Regions from separate parts of the Homo sapiens genome. Here all the other regions are linked to region 2. Evidence: fine-mapped expression QTL. A gene starts in region 2. Each other region holds a variant in brackets. All regions are shown on one strand. Distances are from middle to middle.

Region 1 (8,183 bases), 220 kb before region 2:
AGAGTTTAGGAGCAGACATTGCATTGAGGGTTTTACATGTTACCCCGTTTAATCCTCTCAACAACTTACAAGGTAGCAATTCTCTTATTAACCCACTTTACACACAGGGTGCAGAGAGGTTAAGGCACCAAAGTCAAACACCTTGTTGGAAGCACAGGCAGGACAGGAACCTAAATCCAGCTAAAAGTTTCTGCTCTTGACCATTATACTTAACTATCCCTAAACTATATTGCTTCCAAACAAGGCAGAAAAGGCTATTTTCAACTAAAGTATAAACCAGCAAGTTTTGACCATTAGATAATTTTTCACATATACTACCTTTTCCTATCAAGATACAAAGACAATCAACACTTCGGGATATAAAGAACAAAATTATTTTGACTTTAAGGAGAAAGAAGGCTCAAAACTCTCCAGCCTGGAAAAGAGAACTGAACAGAGACCCAGACTTGCAAATTAGGGGCTAAAGCCAAAACCAAGTCTCTTTGGGATTTCTGTCCAGTGCCTTTCACCTTCAGCATGTCACGTATTTTCAAGGACTTCGTTCTAAGTGCACAGTGGTGCTGCTAGGCTCAGTGAGTGATTTCAGAAATCAGTATTTACCAAATCTTGGAGTTTCCACTAAAATTATCACTGTGTCGACACAAAACCACCAGTTTAAGCCTATACATTGCTATATTCAGTTTTAGGAAACTGTTGTTTTTGATGAAAATACAAAGCACCTGGCTTTCCTAAGAAATGTCATTTATATTCTCAGATTCCACATGCAGCCATATCTCTGGAAGATGCTGTTTTCTCTAACTGGCAAAACCAGGACATCTCTTTGTATGCACACACCTGCTCTGTTGCAACATTCACTTCCTTTCACTGCCACAGCCAAACCACAGATTAGAGCTACAAGTTTAGATCAAGATCAATAACCATCACAGATCTGCAACTCTAGAAGGGGCTCCTGCAGTGGGCCTGGCTCCAGCTGGTGCCCTGGGACCCAACATGAGTCACTTAATCTCTCTTAATCATAAAACGAAGGGCAGCAGATAATGCTTACTAACTGCTTATCAGATGCCAGGCACTGTGCTAAAGCCACTAAACTCGAGCTAACTCATCTAACTGTCATAATACCTGAGGTAGGTACCCTCATCATACCCTGCCTAAAGATGGACAAAGTCAGGCTTAAAAAAGTTACCCAAAGTCACACAACCATGACACTGCACAAACAGAATTCAAACACAGGTTTCTCAGACTTTAGACCCCAAGCTCTTAACTATCACACTCGGTGTCTTTCTGCTTTCCTCATTCATAAAGCAAGGGTAAGAATACCTGTCATTTCCTTGCAGAGACAGTATTCTGCAAATTGTCCTTAACATCATTCTGACTATTCTTCCAGTCTGAGGGGTGAACTGTTACAAATTCTCCCAGACAGACCAACCAATCAGCTAAGTACTCAGTACTGGACTAAGGATGAAGGGAACATAAAAGAGAGAACATCCCTGCCGCCAAGGACTTCGCAATCTAGCCAATACCAATCGAAGCTATAATCTCTCTCAGATATTTTGATCATTGATCCACAGTCAGAAGTGTATTTCTATTATGGCCTGGGAGGGATGCACCTACACACAGCCTTACTGTGTGTCACACATTGTTATTTTTCACTGTTCTATTTCATTTAAAAATGTATCAACCCACTAAATCAATTCTCTGACTGTGGATTGTGATTAACAGTTTGAAAAGCCCCAACTCTAGCCCCTTTTTGGCACAAACTTTAAAACAAAACAAAAACAAAATGTCAGGAAGTTCTTCCTCAGACTAGTTTAAGTTTCTTGGGCTATCGGGTTAATTGGATTTGTATCGCTGAATATGTCCTCAGGGGCAGATGCACCAGCATATCCGATCTGTGAAGGGTATAAAAAGTGGACTCCTGCAGGCCCACATTCAAATGCTGACTCTCTGGCATGTTAGCTATGTGACTTCTCCAGATCTTGGTCTATAAAACAGAAGATAATTCCACTCACCCCTCTGGCTTTTTACAAGGGACCTACCTGGTACTGGTTCTGTCTTTCTCAGCAGAGGGGCTGTGGGCATGGGAGGAAGGGAGACAAGTCTGGTCATGTGGCACGACCAGTTTACGCAACACAAGACCTGTGGTAGCCAATTCCACCCCTCGGCCTGCTACCATGTTAAGTGATTCGAAATCCTTCAAATCTTTTATGCAGGCATCCGTTGTATTCCACATGGAAGTACAATAAATAAGATGCCTAAGATATAACAGGGCATAGGCCAAGTCTCCGCCATTGTAGAGCTTGCTGTTAATCTAGGCAGGTGGCCAGGTAAACAGGTAACTGTAACTGACCGCACCAGGTGGTATAACATAAGTCTGGGAGTCTGATGAGAGAGTGTCTGATGAGAGAGTGTCTCATGCAGGGAAGTCTAGTCCTTGATCCCATTTGCAATTCCCTTAGTGTCAAAAACCACACCTTGCAAACTTCTAATTTATAACACATAAAGACTTAAAAACCACTACCACCACACTGAGGACAAGAATCCTTGTCTGTAGCCACAGCAATAAGAGGGCTATCAACTCCAGTTCTATCTCCCCTACGAGATGCTAAGTTCCTTGAGACCTGAAGTAAGAGAATTGCTCAAGATCACACAGCAAATACACAAAATTGGAAACCCCAAAGATCAAAAATTGCAGGTCACTTTGCTGGTTCCTCTGGAATTTCCCCTATACTTGTCTAGGCTCAAACATAAAAACTAATGTGGAAAGGAGAGAGAGGAGAAGGGAAAAAAGGTCTGTCACTAGGTGACCAAAAATGTAAGAGCTGGCCAAGCACGGTGGCTCATGCCTGTAATCCCAGCACTTTGGGAGGGCCGAGGTAGGAGGATTGCCTGTCCCAGCTACTCAGGAGAATTTCCTGAGCTCAGGAGATGAGCTGTGATCACGCCACTGCACTCCAGCCTGGGTTACAGAGTGAGACCCTGTCTCAAAAAAAACAAAAAGACTTACCCACTAGACGCTGATTAGGTCTTTGAAGAGGTGAGACCACGCCGGGCATAGTGGCTCACGCCTGTAATCCCAGCACTCTGGGAGGCCAAGGCAGGTGGATTGCTTGAGCTCAGGAGTTCAAGACCAGCCTGGGTAACATGGCAAAACCCTATCTCTACCAAGAATATAAAAAATTAGCTGGACATGGTGGCACATGCCTGTAGTCCCAGCTATTCCGGAGGCAGAGACAGGAGAATCGCCTGAGCCTGGGAGGCAGAGGTTGCAGTGAGCTGAGATCATGCCACCGCACTCTAGCCTGGGCAACAGAGCAAGACCCCGCAAGAAATGAGACCAGAAAACCTCAAATTTAGTTTTTTAAGTCTTTTCAAGATAATTATACAATCAGTGAAAGTGTGTGTGCTAAAAGTGCTGACACGTCCAATATGTAAATTTAAAATACCCCGCTTTCTAAAATCGTGTTTTGGCATTTCCTCATTTTTAAAAATACTGGGCATTTCTGAGAGGCTGTGTGGTTAACATGGACTTCCTTAGTTTTGGTTTCCAGTAAATGAAGCATATATCAGCACCCCATTCCAAAACCAAAAGAATGAGAAAACCTTGGAAAGATTCTAGCTGAAACAGGGTTTTTAAGCTTCATCCTCTCCTTCTTGTTTTGGGGGAGGAAGTGTGCAGGGAAGATCAGTTACTAATGCCCTTCAGGGGAGGGGAGTTTCTCAGGCCTCAACCTCTGTAGCTGAGATCTGTATTTTCTTCAAGCCATCCTGGTTGAAAAATAAAAACAAGCGATTACAACACATTGAGCCTGGGTGATCTCACATACACTATCTCATATATATCTTACCACAGCCTCTTTTAGATTGTACTATCATCACCAATTTATAGGACACAGACTCAGAAAGGTTCAGTAACCAGCTCAGGCTCACAAAGCCAGGAAACGGCCGGGAGGGAACCTAGGATGGGACCACACATTCCTGAGGGAGAAGAGAACCCTACTGTGTACACGATCCCCAGGGCATTTGAAGAGGGCATTCTTTCACTTTCGGAATACAAGCTGATTTTAAACAGGCATCTTCTCGGTTGTGTTTTATGAAACTTACAGGGGAAGCTATGGTATAGAAGTATGCTACCTAAGAGTGACTTCCCTTAAGAATCCCCATCTGTAAAATGGAGATGATGACGACCACTCCCTGGGAGCACTGGACAAGACTTTCTGGGCAAAGTCCTGAAAACTCTGACACTCCACAAACACAAATGACCTGGAGCAGCAGCATTACTGCCAGGCCCCTGGAAGTAGCTTATGGGGACAAACTGAAGAGAAAGGCAAAACACACACTCCCCGCTACAAAAGTGCTTAGTCCTCCAAAATGCAGGGAAGGCACGGAGTACTGATGATGAGGAATGGTGGGTCAACAGCCAGTGCACACAGAGGAGGTGGTGCATCCAATGCGTTCCCCACCTATGTTAACTCACAGATCTCGCCTGCTCACTGCACTCATCCAAGGTCTTGGGCAAGGACCCACAGAAAAATAGTGAAACAGGAAAAAAATCCAACAAAGGGTATAAACTCAGAATTCTGTGATCCAGTCACACCAGAGTGACATCATAAAACATAACTCCAGTTCCACAAAGACAGATGCTTCCCTGGGCTGGGCGGCCCACATCCCCAACACCCACAGCTGGCCTCTACTCAGAGGAAGGTTGCACTCAACCCACAATGGGCCAAGGAGCCACTACTGTACTGCCACTCCCAGCTGTGGTCAGAATACCCTCTCCCAGGGCTCCTGCTGCCACTTCCAGCTGTGGCCAGAACACCTCCCAGGGCTCCTGAGACCACTGTGCTATGCAGCAAAAGGCCACACTCTGATCAGAAGATCTTACGTTTGAATCTCAAGCACTGCTACTTACACACTGGGTCTGTCAGCAAATTACTGCCCCACTGATTCTCAGGTCTTTTCCTCTGTAAAATGGAGAAAATAATAACCACTTTCTGAGCTTGTTGTGAGGATTAAATGAGATAATCTGCATAAAAGGCAAGGCACACAGCAACTGAAGCTATTATCCAACTTGAAGCAGAGGCCAGCTAATATTGGGTAAAAATTAAATTTGATTCCTTGAAAGAAAAAAGTTCCATAGAGTTAGTGAGGATCAGCAA[T/G]TTTCAGAAAATTTAAGGAAGTGAGGTGGAAAAATTCCACTCCCCCCATTCCTAAAGGGTTTTGAAGCCCACCCACTCCTGGCTCTCCTGCAGGAATAGAGAACTGCAGTGTCTCCAGACTCTTCCCACTTTATAAATACACCCTACGACCAACCAGAGAGTGCTTGCTGCCAAACTCCTGGGCAAACGCGACCAACAGGATTGGATCCGGAAATTAGATGTCCAAGCAGCCCAGTCATACTCAATTCAAAATAGATATCTGTGACCTACTTAGTCTTCGAGTACCATTCTCAAAGCCAAAAAACAAGACAGGGCCACTGACTTCAGCAGAGCCCTGCATGGGCCCCTGCTTTCCTGTCAGATGAAACGTGCACTGCAACAGTGATGACTCAAGAAATTATCTCAGGATAGCTGGACAGAAACCCCAGCTTGGAAAGAGCTGATTCAAACAGTTGTGAAAAAGCAAAAAGTCACAGAAGTCCTGCCAACAGTTTATCCTCTCTGACTATCCCCAATAATCCATCTTCATCCACTTGGACTGAGGGTTACACCTCTCATGACAGGGACTTCTCAAGCTGTCTATCCCTAACACTCATATTGGTTTGAGTATACATATCTTCCCATAAAACAAGGGATTCTGCCTACTGTACCTTGATGTTCTACAAAGCATCAAGCACAGAAAGGGTCCAATGAAGAGCAAGCACCACCCAAGGGGGACCCCCTCCCCTCCCCAGGGGCAGACCACCAGGTTCCAGCCCACTCACACGCTTGGCTGCTCAAGATTAGAGAACAGAAACAGACAAATATTTGCTAAAAAAAAAAAAAAATTAGGAAGACAAACAAGACCAGGGAAAGTTGCTATGTACTTTCAACCACCGCAGTTACAGAATGATCTCCTAAATTACAACTCATTTCACCAAAGAGATGAGAGTTTTGGGGAGAGTGAATCCAAGGAATTTGGCAGGGACAAATTCCAGTGAAATCCTAGAGCATTCAGCACTAGGCAGTACAACACCAGGTAGACAGTGGAACATTATACTTCACCAGTGAAGCGATGGTAGAGGAAACAAGCTGCTGCCAAAAACAAAAATGAAATAAAGCAAACCTGCTGCTCTTCACATCCGCATCCATCCTCCTCACATCTCCAAGGTCAGCCCCACTGTTCTCACGCACCATTGTACACTCAAAATTCTCATCAGAGAAACTTCCTTGAGAGCCCTGTGGTTTCCTCAGCACTTTTTCCCTACATCATGACATTTAATCATCACCACCATCCTGGGAGGCAGGTGGAACAGGCATTTTTATCACTCACTGAGAAATGAGGAAATGGAAGCCTAAGTATGTCTACCACACGGCACAATCAGGACTAAAGTACAGACTAATTCCCAAGTTCAATGTGTGTTCTCCAAAATAACCCAGACCTGACAAGGCCACATATCTGAGCTCTAGGCCATTGCCCTTTCCACTGCACTGCTGAGGACCTTCTAGAGACAGAATTCCGACACACAACCCTCTCAGTACAGCAGCCCACTCTTCAACCTTCTCAAGACACAACAGAGCTCACAAACCAACCTTGGCAACCGCTGACAGGCAGCACCTGCGTCAGCCACACACCCTAAATCGGGCTGACCACCACCTCACTGGCAAACACAATCCAACCCCTAGAGTTTCAAAAAAGAGACATACACTAGCAAATGGCTTTCTACTGTCAAATGGTGGGCAGAGGCAGAAGAGTGATCATGGACTCCAACTGTTATATACCACAGATCCCAGGAACCTGGGACCTTTCTGAGTATGTCAGTTCTGGGTTCAAATCCTGCCTCTGAAGCTGACTAGCTCTGTGACTTTGGGCAGGTAGCTTTGTTTCTGTAAGTCTCAGCGTCCTCATTTATCACATAAGGGGTTCCAAAAAAAAATCTCTCAGGGGATGTGGTTAAGGCCACAAAACTATACACTTAAAAATAGTTGAAAAGGCAATTTTTTTCCTTGAGACATGGTCTCACTGTCACCCAGGCTGGAGTGCAGGGACATGATCACAGCTCACTGCAACTTCAGCTTCTTGGGCTCAAGCGACCTTCCCAACTCAGCCTCTTAAGTAGCTGGGACTACAGGCACACACCACCACGCATAACTAATTTTTTAAAAATTTTTTTGTAGAGATGGGGTCTCACTATATTGTCCAGGCTGGTCTCCAACTCCTAGGCTCAAGTGATCCTCCTGCCTCAGTCTCCCAAAGGGCTGGGATTATAGGCATGAGACACCACAACCAGCCTAAAAAAGCAATTTTTACGTATATTTCACCACAATAACAAAAATTAGGTTAATATTTGTTTGCTTTTAAGAAACAGGATGGGTTTTGCTATGTAGCCCTCAAACTCCTGGGTTCAGGTGATCTTCCCAACTCAGCCTCCTGAGTAGCTGGGCCTATAGGTACAAGTCACCACACCCAGTATATTTTGTTTTTTTAAAATAGGAATGTCATAGGTTCACAGTGAGAATTAAATAAGATACTGTAATGGCAAGTTCTTACATTGTCTGGCACATACTAAATCCTAATAAATAATAATTAATTATCATTAATAATTTTAATAGTTATAAAGACAGTACATGCTCATTGTAAAAAAAATGCTTAAAAAGCCCTCCTATAATATGAAAATCCAGAGATGACCACTAAAATAAAGTACTTTATGGTCTTTTTCCTACACATAGATATTTCTTAACAAATTTGGAATGTAATTGATATAAAATTTTGTAGTTATGATCCATTCTTTTCTGCCTTACTTATAAATACAAAAACTTCTCACAACATCATCCAGAAATAAAAAGCCTTTGTTCAAGGAAAGGATAAAAAGTTGTGTGAAACTTGAGAAAAGAACAAGGAGATCAGGTTGAGCAACTGGAGACACCCGCCTCCAGAGCCAGAATGGAGATTTAGCCAAATCCTCCACCACCTGCTCGTCTCTGCCTCCAAGTTGGCCCAGAAAGCAAGAACTCTGGGGGTCTGGCCAGACAGGCCATCAGGGAGCA
Region 2 (8,183 bases):
TAAGAGATACAAGTCAAGATTCAGTTGAAGGATAGGGTGGACTTTAGGGGTAAGTCAGTATAGAAGAGTATCAAAATTGCAGACAGTCTGTTCCCAGTATATCTGAGACAATTCTAAATTGGCCAACAAATCATTTTGGGCATCTTGAGTTATGTGTAGCCATGTATGTAAAATGCTGACTCACCTCAAACGTTAAAATTTTTCTCCAAGGTGCGTTTTTTTCATTCTCTGATTCTAAAAATGGGAAGCCAGATCCTCTGCTTCTAAATTGTTTCTTCTTATCTATTAGTGAGTATATAGGATTTCTCCTTCCTTCTGGTCTTCCCCGTGGTCTTCCTGTTGGCTGGTACCTCCTCTTTTTCTTTTTTTTATATCTCTTTTTCCTGTTCTTGAATCTTTCAAAAATAGCTTTTATAGTCAATGGTATTGGTTCAAAAGATGAGTCACTTGATGAATCACTTGCGTGAACACTTTCAGGTGTACGAACAAATTTTCGAATGGGGTTTCTTTTCTCCCCTTTAGGTGAGTAAGGGATACACTGAGTTTTAAATAAGCTGCTATCAGAAGAGTTATCACTAGAAAAATGGGAAAAAAATTAATTTCATCTTCTTTTCTTACTGCTTATTACCATTAATACCCAGTCCTAAATGTACATTTCTTCCAAGACCAACTCAGAAAACATGCCCAGAATTAAAAATTTTTTAAAGGATGGGCTCAGAACCAGCTAGCCTTTCTACTGATCATCCTATTTAAATAGCCCATAATGCTACAGCTCTTATTAAAGAGTTTTGTAGACATCGTCTTGCTGTCACCCAGACTGGAGTGCAGTGGTGCAATCACAGCTCACTGCAACCTCAAACTCCTGGAAACTCCAGGGATGCTCCTGCCTCAGCCTCCCAAGTAGCTAGCTAGGACTAATGGCATGCACCACTATGCTCAGCTTACAAAAAAACTGTATCTTTCAAGACAATGTATGAGCTCCAAAAGGCTGTATGGTTCGGTTCACTGCTAAGAGTGTCTGAGTAAAACAAACACAGCCTACCGAACCGGAGGATGTAGTCTGGAAGAGATGCTAATATGACCCAAAGAATACATTTTTTCTCGACGAATGTGTCCCATAATATATTCACATTTTGAATTTAAAGTATTTGCAATGCTATTATATCAATCTATGTAACTAGATAAACTTGGAAGGTCAGTGAAATCTAGTTTTCCTTCTTTCCCAATTCCTGAAAATTATCTTTACTGTCACTCATTATATACAATAGTTTCTCATAATTCAGATACAATAAACATGATTGAATCCACTCACCTTCGATTTGCAAGTTCCACAGCATCAGATGTCACATGGTCAAGAGAATCTATTCCTGATTTATCCATCAATTGCTCTTTGTTTTAAACAGTTTTCTGAAATTATGAAATTTAGTAAATATGACAAAGCTTCCCTAAATATTGACAGTATCTACTACAGTGTTGAACGTGGTCAGACTATGCCAATGATTTCAGGCGAAATCATTTACCAAGGTTAAGCTTCTTATCCATTTCAGATCAGTTTCTTTAAAAAGAAATCCAGAAATTCTATTCACAGGTTCTTTCAGTTGTTACCCTCTAAATGTATTCAACGCAACAAGATTCCAAAAAAGTACCGTCCCTTCCAACAAAAGCATCTTTCAATATAAGTAAAAAATGTAGTTTTATCATTAGCCACATATTTTAACGTACAATTACCAATACAGTATTAATGTACAATTAAAAGCCGTTTTCCAAGATCAAAGGGGGAATTCCTAAAGCAAAGTGTGCCCTATATAAACCAGGAAAAGGATCTCCAATCAATAAACCATTTTAAACTCCTAATCACCTCTCCATTATAATTCCTAGATTCTTCATTCCTAGATTCATTTAAGCAACTGAACTTTGTCATATTGTATCTTTGCCATTATTGGTGGAAACTGACAAGTTCTGAATTCTCAACCTTTTTCAATGAACTATCATAATTCTTGTGTCTTCATCCCCATGGTAGAGAGTATACAACATACCAAAAAAAAAAAAAAAAAAAAAGAAAAAGATTCCTTCTTGTGAGCTAAAAGAAAAAAGAAAAACAGGTTGGTCTGGGTGGCTCAGGCCTGTGTAACACAGCACTTTGGGAGGTCGAGGCGGGCGGATCGCTTGAGCCCAGGAGCTCAAGACCAACCTGGGCAACGTGGTGAAACTCCGTCTCTACAAAAAATACGGAAATTAGCCAGAATAGTGGCGCGCGCCTGTGGTCAGGAGGCTGGGGTAGGTGGAATACCTGAGCCTGGGAGGTGGAGCTTGTATGTAGTGAGCCTCAGCAACACAAGGAGACCCTTGTCTCTACAAAAAATTCTTAAAATACTGGCTAGGTGTGTTGGCCCGTGCCTTTGCTCCCAGCCACTCGGGAGGATCGCTTAAGCCGCGGTGGAGGTTGCTGTTAGCCGAGATTGCACCACTGCACTCCAGCCTGGACGACAGAGCAAGACCCTGTCTCAGGAAAAAAAAAAAAAAAAAAAAAAAAAAAAAAAAAGGCATGGCAACAAAAATTAAAGATAACTACTTATTTCATTATTGTACATGCCTTAGTCAATCTCTTGTCTCATTCTGTAGCTTCTTGGGACCTGACATGAGTCATTACATATAAATCCTAGGATGAACTAGCAAAATATTTAAAATATGAAACGATAAGGTCACCAAGAGCTCAGATTTGTTAAATGCCCCCTGTGGTATTTTCCTGGTACAAGGTCTTACTAGTTTTTTTAAGTACAAGATTCTACAAAGTCATTAAATATCGAATGCTCAAAAACGGAATTCAACAAAAATTTGCCCCCATGCTTTAACGGTATACCTGTAGTTAATTTTTTTTAAAAGTAGGGATTATCAAAATAAAGCTAGCTCAATAATCACTTTTTCGAAGTGTTTAGAAGACACTCCTACTTGGGTGTCGATGCCTCCGTGGGGATTCTGCAATTCTTAGAGGCCACGTGGGCAGAGAGCGGCGCTTTACCCGGAGCTAACGCTGTGACCACCAGCGCCTCTCACCCGGCAGCGCCTAACCTGCAGAAAACCGGCGCGAGTAATGGGTACCTCACATACGAAGGTTAAATCATTTAAATCACGTAATAAGGTTAAACTTGTCCGCAACACGATTTAACACCTCCATCTCAAGATATAATGAAGCCCGTCCACACTACAACCACGTTTGTGTGGGACTCATACCAGCCGCGTGGCGCGGAGTGGCCTGCGGCCGTGATCCCTTCACCCTCTCGGACCGACTTCGGAGTCTCGATCCTCCGGACCAACGAAGGGGCCCCGGGAAACCCCAGATATGCAACGCCTCCCCCGCCCGCCAGGCCCGGACGGCCTCGCCCTCTTAGCAACCTACCTAAAACGGCCTCGCAGTGGCCCCAACCGCGCACTTGCTGCTTGTAACCCAGGCCTCGGCCCAAAACCCGCGACTGGCCTGGTGTCCTAGAGCTCTGTACACACCACCCTCCCGACCTCAGCCCTCCAACTCCCGATAACCAGCCGACCTCCTCCAACCGTGCGGAAGAAAAGGGTTGGCTATTTCCGTGGCCCAAGTAATAGTCAGGCCGAAATCTCGCGATACAACTTAGCTTCCGGGAAGAAGGCGAGCGGTGGGAGGAGACGCGACGTGGGGGCGCCATTTTTCTCGCCGCGCAGGGAGGACTGACTAACGTGGGCGGAGCTCTAGCTCGCGTATTCTGAGGAGGCGGGGTTGGCCTAGGCGAAGATCCGGACTCTGGGTGTTTTGCTACCGTGACCGTTTAGGTGAGTGGAATAGCCAAGAACATTTCGGCAAATAACAAAAACAAAACGTGCGGTCACTTGTGAGTGGATGAGAACTGTGAGGAAACAGCCTCTCAGCCCGGTTCGTTTCCGGTGGTCTCGCGTTTGCTGAGCTGTCGCCTGGCTTTCTAAATCTGGTCCCGGGTGTGTGGCGAGGGTGACGGGTGGGATGTGTGCCTGAGTGTTTTGTAATCCTTTGTCTATTTCTGCCTTCAGAAACCCTTGTGTGTTAAAATATTGGAGAAGGCTCATTCTTTGACCATGACTCGAAGTGTGTAACCTTTGTGCTGGACGCCAGTGTTATTCCATAGCACGCCCAGGTCTCCTCCCCACTTTTGCACCTGTTTCGTAAGCTCACCCTTTCTGCCTCCCAGGAGTTGGCTAACATGTCACAAGTGAGACCTGTGGAGGATTTGTTTTTCCTAAGTTTCCTCCTACATCCCCCCTGCCCCACACCATTAGTTCCTTGACCGGTTCCTGAGTTAAGATTAAACAGTGTAAACTAGTTTAGTTTTGGTGGGGTTTTTTTCTCCCAAAGTAATTTTTTTTTTTTTGAGACCGAGTTTCGCTCTTGTTGCCCAGGCTGGAGTGCAACGGTGCGATCTTGGCTCACCGCAACATCTGCTTCCCGGGTTCAAGCGATTCTCCTGCCTCAGTCTCCCCAGTAGCTGAGATTACAGGCGTGCGCCACCATGCCCAGCTAATTTTTGCATTTTTAGTAGAGGCGGGGGTTTCTCCATGTTGGTCAGGCTGGTCTCAAACTCCCGACCTCAGGTGATCCTCCCGCCTCGGCCTCCCAAAGTAATTTTAAAAAGGAATGAACTGGTTTGATTTTTCCGCTTTCAAAATTCTGTTTTCATATGATAAACCACAAAAATCAGTAAAGCTGTCTAGTCTTATTTTATAGTTCACATTTTAGGATTGAACGGGCCTTAAAAGTAATCTGGTCTCTTTACCTGCTTTGCTCCATAGTTTGGACAATTCCGGGGATAAAAAGTCCGATCCTTTAGGCAGCCCACTGCATTTGATCCACAGGGTCTGGGCAATGACGAAGCTCCAGGACTGGTATGGCATGTCCCTCACTGCCGTATTCAGCAGCAAGCCTAGCTGTGTAATTTGTGAGGCTCAATGCAAAATGAAAATGCAGCGTCCCTTGTTCAAAAAGAAGGGGAAAAGTGCTATTAAAGGGAAGGAACATTTAACTCCTAATGCAGAATCATTGAAATTTCACATTTCATTTTGTATTTTTTCTTTTTTCTTTTTTTTTTTAGAAACAGAGTCTCGCTCTGTCGCCCAGGCTGGAGTGCAGTGTGGCCCGATCTCAGCTCACTGCAACCCCCACCTCCCGGGCTCAAGAGATCCACCCACCTCAGCTTCCCAAGTAGCTGGGACTACACGCGCCCGCCACCACAACCGGCTAATTTTTGTACTTTTAGTAGAGACCAGGTTTCACCATGTTGGCCAGGCAGGTCTCGAACTCTTGACCTCAAGTGATCCGTCTGCCTCGGCCTCCCAAAGTGCTGGGAGTACAGGCGTGAATCACCGCGCCCGGCCACATTTGGTATTTCTCTGTTTGTGTTATAGAGACAGGGTCTTGCTCTGCCACCCAGGCTGGAGTGCAGTTGAAGCAGGATATTCCTCTGACCCCTTCGTGGGTCTTGCGGCTGCGGTGCCTCACTTACTTAGCCCACGGCTCTCAACTCCTCGCGGGAGGGGGGGCGCGAGTGAATGAGGCGGGAACTGGAGTGCTGGAAGCCACGAACTCCAGTCACCCAGGCCTGCTGCGCTCCACCCTTTATGGGAGGGTGCGTGGGGGTGAGCAGATGCTGGAGCCGGAGCGAGCGCTTTTGGTCGCCGGTAGGAGCGAACTCCATGCAGGCCCTGCGGCTGTGTCTAGGGGATGCCCGCGACCCCTGAAGACCCACAGCCTGTCTTACAACCTGTCATGGTTGTGAAAAGTTTTGAGAGAACGTCTGCACAGTGTCTAACGGTGTCTGGTATATAGTGTGCACTCAAATGGTAACCAGTTTAGTTGCGATAGTTGGTCTACCCCTCCAGGTGTTAACCTCTGCAGCTCCGTTTCCCTTCTAGACCCTATTTCTGGGCCATCGACTCCCACCAATTAGGCAGGAAAATACTGTTTGCCTCCATCTGGCCCAAGGCTGTATTCCTGGAGTTTATGTGAGAACCTAACTCCTTTCTCAGCTCCAACTGTAACCCTCTCCCCACCTCCAACACACACATAAACACTCACATACACATGCTACCACACTGCCTGCTGTGCCATCAGCCTGCCTGAAGTTCACATCATTTTAGAATTGGACGGGCCTTCATAATTTAAATTTTATTATGAAAAAGTGATAGTCTAAGGAACTCATTTGATTTTTTTGTCTAAATGTCAAATATAGAGTAGAACGCACAAGTGTCTGTTATAGAAATACTTGAGAGTCCTATATGCACTGTTATCCACAACCATTTAAGCACTTATCCACTAATCCCTAATAAGTACCCCTAATAAGTACATTTCTAAACCAGTTATTCAAGCTACATCCTCCCAAGATTGGACTTTGTTTCTACTTTGGTAGGGACATAAATAAACGGAAACAACTGACCTAACTTTTTACTAAAGAGATAATAAAGGGAATAAAATTAAGATTACATTTGGATTTTAACTTGTGTTCTTATTCCTACTGCCAGCAAAAATATGTAAAGTGTTTTTATCATTATAAATGAATATACTATTCATTGTGCAGATTTTGACATGTTCATAAATAAGTTAGTACCCAATGTTTGCTTGATAAAGAATGTGATAAAATGTTAACATTTGGGAAATCTGGGTGAAGAATGTATAGGAATTATTTGTATGTAATATTTGTCAATCTGAAATTATTTAAAAGAAAAAGTTAAACTGTCTCATTCCTGAACAATTATAAATTATTCAACCCAAAACTGAAGGGGGCCTGCCCCTCCACACCTGTGGGTATTTCTCGTCAAGTGGGAAGAGAGACTGAGAAAATAAATAAGACACAAAGTATAGAGAAAGAACAGTGGGCCCAGAGGACGGGCACACTCAGTATGCGAGGACCTGCACCGGCACTGGTATCTGAGTTCCCTCAGTATTTATTGATTACTTTTCACTATCTCGGCAAGGGAACTGCGGTGGGAGAACAGGGTGATGGTGGGGAGAAGGTCAGCAGGAAAACATGTGAGTAAAGAAATCTGCGTCATAAATAAGTTCAAGGGAAGGTACTGTGCCCAGATGTGTAAGTAGGCTAGATTCATGTTTCTCTTTACCCAAACATCTCAGTGTAGCAAAGAGTAACAGAGCAGTATTGCTGCCAGCATATCTCCCCTCCAGCCACAGGGTGGTTTTCTCCTATCTCAGAATAGAACGAATAGTCGGCTTTACACGGAGACATTCTGTTCCCAGGGATATGCGGGAAACAGAGGCCTTCCTCTTTTACTAATCCTTCTCAGCACAGACCCTTTATGGGTGTCAGGCTGGGGGACGGTTAGGTCTTTCCCTTCCCACGAGGCCATATCTCAGGCTGTCTCAGTGGGGGGAATTCTTGGACAATACCCACGCTTTCTTGGGCAGAGGTCCCTGCAGCTTTCTGCAGTGCATCATGTCCCTGGTTAATAGAGAATGGAGAATGGCGATGACTTTTACCAAGCATACAGTCTGCAAACATATTGTTAACAAGGCACATCCTGCACAGCCCTAAATCCCTTAAACCTTGATTCAATACAGCACATGTTTCTGTAAGCACAGGGTTGGGGCTAAAGTTACAGATTAACAGCATCTCAAAGCAAAACAATTTTTCTTTGTGCAGATCAAAACGGAGTTTCTTTTGTCTTCCTTTTCCACATAGACACAGTAACAGTCTGAGCTCTCTTTTCCCCACACAAAACTATGTTTAAAATAATTTAAGTATGATTATATAAGATTTGGGGGCCGGGTGCAGTGGCTCACGCCTGTAATCCTAGCACTTTGGGAGGCCGAGGCAAGTGGATTGCTTGAGCTCAGGAGTTTGAGACCAACCTGGGCAACATGGTGAAACCCCGTCTCTACTAAAATACAAAAAATTAGCCGGGCATGATGGCACATGCCTGTAATCCCAGCTACTGGGGAGGATGAGACAGGAGAATTTCTTGAACCTGGGAGGCGGAGGTTGCAGTGAGCCGAGATCATGCCATTGCACTCCAGCCTGGGTGACACAGCGAGACTCCGTCTCAAAAATTTGGGACCGTTAATAAACAGTTATATATATTTGGGAGATTAGATTACATGTATTAAATCAAGAACAATAAAAGCTGGTATTTGATAAAGTACTAAAGTAAATATAACATCCTAAATGTTT
Region 3 (8,183 bases), 490 kb after region 2:
AAAGAAATACAAAAAAGCTATAATGAATTTATTTTACCTAAATGTTAATCATAATTTTTAAATTTAAAATATTCTGTCCATGAATTTTTTCTTTATATAGATAGATGATAGATAAATGATAGATAGATAGAAGATAGATAGATAGCTAGCTAGCTAGCTAGCTAGATAGATAGATAGATAGATAGATAGATAGATAGATAGATAGAGCTTGTTTGAATCAGGTTCAATTAAGAGCCATTCATTGTTTTTCATTTCTATGAATAATATGTCTTTTTTATCTAGTAATACACCCTTCATCTGTTTTCCTCTCCTTGCAATTATTTGTTGAAGAAAACAAGTTGTTATTCCTATAGGATTTCCCACAGCCTTGATGTTGCTGACTCATCTTCATGATGCCATTTTTCATTTGTCATGGTGAACATGTTTCACTGTTCTCTATGTTTTTTGCAAATAGGTAGGTAAATCTAGAGACTTAATCAGATTCACATTTGTGTGTGTGTGTGTGTGTGTGTGTGTGCAGACCATTTCATAAGTGGTGGTGAGTATTTCCTTCAGGAAGCACATAAGTTCCGACCGTTTCTCTTTCTGTGATGCCAGCAGCTGTTGCTGATCATGACTTAGATCTGTTAATTCCTTAGGGGTTACAAATGTTGATGCTCTTATTCTATCGTTCCTTCTTTGTTTTTATATAGAGAAGCTTCATTTCATTAACTATTTGTTACCCAGAAGAAAAAAGGAAATATGCTTATTTCCTTTTATTTGCCAGTTTTCAAATAATATGTAGGGTTTAGAGCACCCTCCAAAGATGATCAATGACCAATTCTGTATTATTATAAATCATGAATTTAAACATACTTAACATGTTTAAATTCATTTTAGTTTTTATCCTTATTGTTGTTCAAGCTGTTTCATCTTTGGCCAGTGGGAGGCTCCTCAACTTAGTTCCTGAGTTTTTTTGAAAAGGTCCTACTGGTTTTTGATAGATTCCTTGCTTTCTGGCATAACAAGATGTTTCAGACTCCCTGTATTAATTTTATAGGACTGCCATATCAAAGTACCACAAATGGAGTGGCTTAAATTTATTCTGTCACAGTTCTGGAGGCTAGAAGTCCAAAATCAAGGTACCAGGCAAGCCATGCTTCCTCTGAGGGCTCTAGGGAAGAATCCTGCTATGCCTCTTCCTAACTTCTGGTGGTCACTGGCAATCCCAGGCATTCCTTGGCTTGCAGCTGCATCATCCCAGTCTCCGCCTCTATCGTCATACAGCCTTCTTTCCTGTATTTCTGTCTGTTTCTGTTTTTCTTCTTGTAAGGACACCAGCCATTGATTTAGAGCCCACTCTAATCATGTATGACCTCTTCTTAGTTTAATTACATTTTGCAAAGACCCTATTTCTTAGTAAGGTCACATTCTGAGAATCCAAGTGGATGTGAATTTTGAAGGAAAGGCTACCAATTTTGGTGAGGAGAAGCACACATTGTAAAGTTCCCACCGTTGAGGTTTGTAGTGAGCAAATGACGACAGAAAAAGAATCAGCAAGAAGAATCAGACTATCTTCAAAAGGAAACCAAACCAGTAGTTCAAGAGGAGAAACCTTGGTCTGGCATTGAGGTCTAACAAGCGTTTCTCTGGATGGGTGACTACACACACAAAAAATCACACATTTAGGAGCAGTCCATGTTTTCAGCAGTAGGTACAGCACCTTTACAGCTCAGACCTCTCTCTTCCTTATTGTCATAAGGAGGTTTCTTTCTCCATAAGAGTGGAGGTTATTCCCCTCTTTGCGCAGATGAACAAGCACAGGAGAAAGAAAAGAATAAACTGGCTATAAGTGTGGTGTAGCTTGTAAGAAGGAGGGGAAAAAGGAGGAGAAAGATAAGGAAGACAAACATTGAGAAAAGAAGCTTTCTTGGATAGGGAAATTGAAGAATGAGCCTTGAAAGGCAGAGTTGAAGGAGCATAAAAGTTGGCATCAGAAAGGCCTCTGCTACTCACAAAACCTGTGACTTTGAATATGTTTCATAATTTCTTTGAGATTCAGTTTTTTAACTGAAAATCAGGAATAATGGTATCCATAATAATATGCTTGCATTTATTCATGTTTCTATTGAGCATCTTCTACTTGCCAGATACTATTGTAGGTGCCAGGGATATGGCAGTGGAAAAACTAGACAGAAATATGTGCCTCATGGCTTCCATTCTAATTCAGGTAGTTGTGAGGTAAAAGTAAAACTGCAGATGTGAACACTGGACAGATAGCAAGTATTCTTAAAGAGTTAGATTCTCTTCATCTGTCCTAATGCTGAGCCACAGATTCAGAGATTGGCAGAGCGCTTAACTTAACAGCAATTTATGTGAGTGAGGACTCTCCTCAAAGAAAGAAACCACCACTCAAAGATCCCATTATGTTCTCAAAGAGTAGGGCAAAAAAAGGCCTACTTGGGATAAATGTCAGTGTTTGTTCTCTGGGAGTAGTTGGGGAGATTTGTTTTAATCTTATGAATTTTTGTTTGTTCTTGTTTTACTGTTCTAGTATGATTGCTAAGAAGGAGGGCCTTAGGAGGTTCCCTAGTAAGATACTATTACATTTTTCTCTCTCAAAAATGTATTGGCTCCCTATAAGGTGACTGGATATCGATTATTATCTGGCCTCAAGTTCCCCCCTACAAAAGCTGCTAAATCTCCTAGGCCCCTGCCTATGAAGCAGGCGTTTGGAATTGGAGGACAGATTTTGTATTAAGCCCCTACCAGGCAGATACTTGAGTGATCACTGGGGCTGAGGTGGGCATCTTATCTGCACAGCCTTGATGACTGGAAGGATCTTCCAAGAATCCCTTAGGGAAGCATTTATGCTCACTTGGACTGGTGGCACCTTTGCACTGTTTTTCGTGTTGGTTTCCCAAATATTGAGCCCTTTGGAAGGATGCTGGGATAAAACTATAGATCTTAACTTTTTGCTTCTAGTTGGAAATTCACATTTCAGGTACTGCACAGGGCGAAGGAATGTTCTAATGGAATTTTTTATTTATTTATTTATTTTTATTTTTTGCTTCCCTGGAAGATTGGGTGATTACAGGAAGGTGTATTCACATGTGGAAAAGGTGATGAACTTGTAGCATCAGTACCCTACAAACTTGAAACCCATCATAAAAAGCTTTGATGATGTAGCAGAAGACACTTTGGTTGACACCAGGAATAGCCTTTGACTCTTAGATCAGATAAAATTCCTAACATAGCACAGTTACAGTGGACAACTGCTTTTTTGTCTCTCTTTGAGAATGTTATTATATTCTGTTTGATTGCAGCAAAAAACTTACATTTAAAATCAAGAAAGCAGAGTCAGAGACCCAGTTATAACCTCTGGAAACCCAAGAGTTTACTGAAGATACTATTTCTCTGGGAATTTTAAGCCATCTTATGGGAGAAAAAGTTTCTAGAATGGTAGCCCAGTCTACTGTTGGGAAAACCAATAACTGGAAAAACACAATTATTGGGATGCACACTGCTGATATATAGGCATATGCTATGCTTTCAATCTTTTTCCCCACAGTCTTATCTCTCTGCTTCTGCCTTGAGGAAAGATCAAAGGGGTTGGCAGGACAACTAAGGCCTTTCCCTTGAGAACATTTAAGCAGGCAACTCAAAGACTCTCTTTCCTACCAGAGCAAGAAAGAAAACCACAGGAAAGTGGAAAACAGGCTGTAGACAGACCTCTGAATGTGTTTCTAAATATTTCTAAAAATTTATTATTCTAATGAAAAGGCTCAGAGTAAGTTAGAAGAACATGTTCTGCTTGGCTTTGAAGAATAAGCAGTGATTACACTTAATTAATGAAAATTGTACCAGATGATATCATGTCATTTATATTTAATTCTTGCTCTAAATTTTGTATCACTTAAAAATATAGTGATTGGCCATGGTGGATACTTAACTCGTTTACTCAGCACATATTTATTATGTATCTACTATGCTAGCTACTGAGATAACAGTGGTAAACATGCATGGTTCCTGCTCTCATGAGGCTTATAGTCTAGGGATAAAGAAAGTCTTAATAAAATCATCTCACTAAAAATATGTAAATTTTCAGCTGAGACATGCTGTGAAGGTAGTAAGCATATGGTGTTTGAGAACCTATAACAGTCAGATTGTACCTATCTGGAAGTCCCTGAGGAAGTGATGTTTTTGTAGAGAGCTAATAAATGAGTGGACGATAACAGGGCTTAGAGGAGGGAGAATGGTTCCAGCAGAGGAAATAGTGTCTGCAAAGTCCTGGGCAGGAGGTAGGGGACCCACCTAGAGAAACTGAGACTACTGTGATGAAAACAGAGCAAAGAGGAGCTTGAATATTAGAGGATAGTAAGTTGGAGAGGAACAGAGAAGATGATGCAAAGCACTCAATCTCTCCATGCCCCAATATCTTCATCTATATAATGGGAATAATAGTAATATCTATATTTAGGGATACTATGAAAATGAAATATTAATATGCATAAAGCACATAGTACCTGTGTACTTTGTGCTAGCTGTTATCATCCTTTCCCATATCCCACTGACAGCATTCTAGCCATGTTATAATCGGAGATCTTGCTTTATTCTAAACAATATTATCAGTTGCTTGAGGTCAGGGATTTTGTCCTATTCATCTTTGGATTGCTTGGGTCTTAAACATAACAATGGCTAAATAAACATTTTCCAAATTATTTTTTTCTGGAACTTACCATATGCAAGACCTATCTAGGCACAGTGAAGTCTCAAGTTCTTTGAGACTTTTGTGGTTTGAGGATACTAATATTTAAAACAATTTCTTATCAAAATATACACACAGCAAAAGAAACATAAGTCAAAATTCCGACTTAATATATTTTCACAAACAAATGCATTCTTACAGCCAACTGTCAGATGAAGAAACATTATCTGCACTCAGGAAAACTCTTTTATCCTATTTTGGCATTATTCACCTCCAAGGGAAGTCACTATTCTGACTCCAACTTGACTGTTTTGTAGTTTATATAGATAGAATAAAACAATATAGACACTTTCCTGTCTAACTTCTTTCACTCAACATTATAGTTGTGAGGTCCATCCACATTGTTGTGTGTAGTCATAGTTCATTTTTATTGCTGTAGCCTATACTATAATTTATTC[G/A]TTCTACTCTTGATGGGCTTTTGGGCAGTGACTAGTCTGTGACTATTATAAATAGTATTGCTTTCAACATTCCAGAACATGTCATTTGGTGAGTAGATATACGCATTTTTATTGGCTACACACCTAGGAGTGAAATGCTGGGTCATAGGGTATACATATGTTCAGCTTTAGGAGATATGGCTGAGCTGTTTTCCAAAGAGATTGTACCAATTTATACAGCCCACCAGCAGTCGATGAAAGTTGCAGTTCCTTCACATACTCATCAACACTTGGCATTTTCTTTCTTTTTCTATATTAATTATGCTTAAAATGTATATTTGATCAGCTTCTCACCAGGTTGGAATGTAGAAACTGTGGTACATCTCCATGGCAGGGCAAGCCAGGGCTGTGTCATTAATTCAGATGATTCCCTGCCAGAAATCTTTTATTCAATAATCAGTGATTAAGAGCCTACTCTGTTCTAGCTGCTGGAGATTCCAGGAGAATAAAGTATGGTCCCAGGTCACGAGCCATCATGGCTCAAGTCAAGAGAAGAGCGATGGAGTTGGATCCTTATATATACAAACAAGGTGACACAACAATACAGAGAATGGGATTTTCTGACTACCTGGGGGCCACAGAGAAGGCTCACAAAGGAGGGGACATTTGCGATCTGTAGTTCCAAATGTAGTTCATCTGTAGTTCCCATAATCCTCACATGTCATGGGAGGGACCCAGTGGGAGGTAATTGAATCATGGGGGTGGTTACCTCCATGCTGTTACTCTGATAGTGAGTGAGTTCGCAAGAGATCTGATGGTTTTATCAGGGACTTTCCCCCCAATTCCCTCTGCACCTCTTGCTGCTGCCATGTGAAGAAGGATGTGTTTGCTTCCCCTTCCACCATGATTGTAAGTTTCCTGAGACCTCCCCAGTTATGCTGAACTGTCAGTCAAACCTCTTTCCTTTATAAATTACCTAGTCTTGGATATGTCTTTATTGGCAGTGTGAGAACAGACTAATATACTGGCTAATTTATAAACCACAGAAATTTATTTCTTACAGTTCTGGAGATTGGGAAGTCCAACATCAAGGCACTGGCAGATTTAGGGACTGGTGAGGAACTGTTAACTGGTTCATAGATGGTGCCTTATTTCTGTGTCTTCACATGGTGGAAGGGGTTAGCTAGTTTTCTGGGGTCTCTTTAATAAGGACACTAATCCCATTGATAAAAGCTCTACTCTCATGATCTAATTACCTCCCAAGGGCTTCACCTCCAATATCATGCCATTGGGATTTAGATTTCAATATTTGAATTTTGGGGGGACTCAAGTGTTCAGATTATTGCACTCATTTTTTGATACACTCCAGTATTTCAATGTCTCTGTTCGTGTAGCATCTTGAGTGGAACAAAATACTCAAGGGTTGTCTTTACCAGCTTGAAATAAATTGGGACATCAACATTAAAATTCTGAATACTTAATTTATACTAATGCATTTGTATTTCAGTTAGCTTTATGTTTTGGCTTGCTGCTTTGTCGTATCCAGCCCATTTCCCTTTCCTCCTGGGCACACAACTAGACCACATTTTCCATGTCTCTTGCAATCAGCTGTGGCCATATGACTGAGCTCTGGCCAATGAAACATGGCCAGAAGTAGTAGGTATCATTTCTGGACAGAAGCAGGTGGGTGTACCTTTTTCTTTGTCTCTCTCCTCATTTACCAGTTGAATGGGACCACCATAAGGAAGGCCGAGCCACAGTTGGAAAGAGACTGGGCACCTGAATGTTGATGTTGAAGGCTGCTGGGCCATGCCACCACACCGGACTGTGTCCTAGGGAGACGTACCCATATTGTGCTAAGTCACAGAGACTGCAAGGTTTAGCATACAGCAGCTAGAGTCACTTTAACTAAAACAGGGTAACAGTGGTCTCCCTTGTCTTGATCTTCTCTTCCACTACTTCCCCCAAAGTACTAACAAAAGATCCGCAATTACATCTGCAACTTCTCCCAGCACAGTGAGAATTATTCTATCAGGGGAGCCTCAAGGTCACTTAGATGAATTCTGAACTCTCTTATGGTCTTTTTTGCTCTTGGATCTCTATAGGGTCTAGCTAGTATGACCCTGCTTTTTCCAGTCTGACAACTATTGATTCTTAAGAGAAGAGACAAACTGAGGCAGGATTGGGGCAGTTCTGCATTCTCTCTCTATTGGCAACACTGCAACATCTGAGAGTTGTTATTTCCTTTGACGACAAAACAGAAAGCATGTGTCCTTCCTCCTGCTGAGTGGCAAAACAAGATGCCCATCCTACACACTGTCCAGAACAGCAGGTCCTCACAGTCTTCTCAGAAAATCCAGGCCGAATGAAGAGAAAAAGGAAGGCCAATGCCAGCCAGTTGCATCTTTCATAGAATGAGTTAAGCATTGGCCTAGCATAAGGTACACAGGCAGGCTGACATGGCTGATGGGCTCCTGATGCCACATCATTAGTACTCTGAATGACTCAGATACTGTTATTTTCTGGTAGGTCATGTTGACTTGAGATCTAGAAGAAACACTGGTCCAGAAGTCATAATGCCTGGGTTTCAATGGATCCAATAATAGCTACCACTTATGGGGTCCTTGCTGTGTTTTAGATCTTCCTGGGCACTTTTTATACATCATGTCAAGTATCTCTTTTGGAATAAGATATGAATTTCTGTGCCTATAAATTTTATATATATTTCTATTTTACAGGCAATTTTACAGATATCTCCATTTTACAGATAAAGACATTGAGGCTCTGACTGCTATATGCTCAATAGTATGCTAGTCCCTCCCGGAAATAGATTAAGACTCTGACTTGGATGAGTTTAAAATCTCCTTAAGGAAGTGAGACTTTCCTGAAGCAATCGGGGAATCACACCCAATAGCATACAAAGTTAGATGGAGATGGAGTGTCCCGGCTGCAGAGAGTGGGAGTGAGAGTCACACCCAGCCTGAGAGGCCTGGATTGCCAGGTACCAGGGGTCGGGATGGACAGACACCAGGAGCTAAGTGGGAGTACAGCCAGCCTTG

Direction of the effects. Alleles are on the strand shown, and positions count from the first base shown. SD is a standard deviation of normalised expression in the study named. Not every link is listed here.
With allele G in place of T in region 1, the expression in unexposed skin of the gene that starts at base 3,571 in region 2 is lower (small effect, 0.24 SD a copy in GTEx).

The links.
Region 1: its variant is fine-mapped to the expression of TAF1D in unexposed skin (GTEx, PIP 0.97).
Region 3: its variant is fine-mapped to the expression of TAF1D in whole blood (TOPMed, PIP above 0.99).

The regions. Positions count from the first base shown.
Region 1 is chr11:93,520,333-93,528,515 of GRCh38, forward strand. All of the region lies in intron 1 of SMCO4 (single-pass membrane protein with coiled-coil domains 4), which reads right to left. Among named protein-coding and RNA genes, the nearest start is that of SMCO4, 19 kb to the right of the region's middle. RefSeq lists enhancers at 3,768-3,867, 6,316-6,415, 6,446-6,615, 6,996-7,045. The variant T/G (reference allele first, on the strand shown) is at 5,157.
Region 2 is chr11:93,737,925-93,746,107 of GRCh38, forward strand. It overlaps TAF1D (TATA-box binding protein associated factor, RNA polymerase I subunit D), which reads right to left and starts at 3,571. Exons shown (of 6, transcript NM_024116.4): 1 at 3,398-3,571; 2 at 1,313-1,407; 3 at 185-575. The coding sequence starts at 1,380. It overlaps C11orf54 (chromosome 11 open reading frame 54), which reads left to right and starts at 3,748. Exons shown (of 9, transcript NM_001286069.2): 1 at 3,748-3,804. RefSeq lists enhancers at 1-1,193, 3,231-3,740, 3,869-4,554, 4,321-4,440, 4,961-5,500.
Region 3 is chr11:94,223,793-94,231,975 of GRCh38, forward strand. All of the region lies in intron 3 of LOC105369435 (a long non-coding RNA gene), which reads left to right. Among named protein-coding and RNA genes, the nearest start is that of IZUMO1R, 77 kb to the right of the region's middle. The variant G/A (reference allele first, on the strand shown) is at 5,146.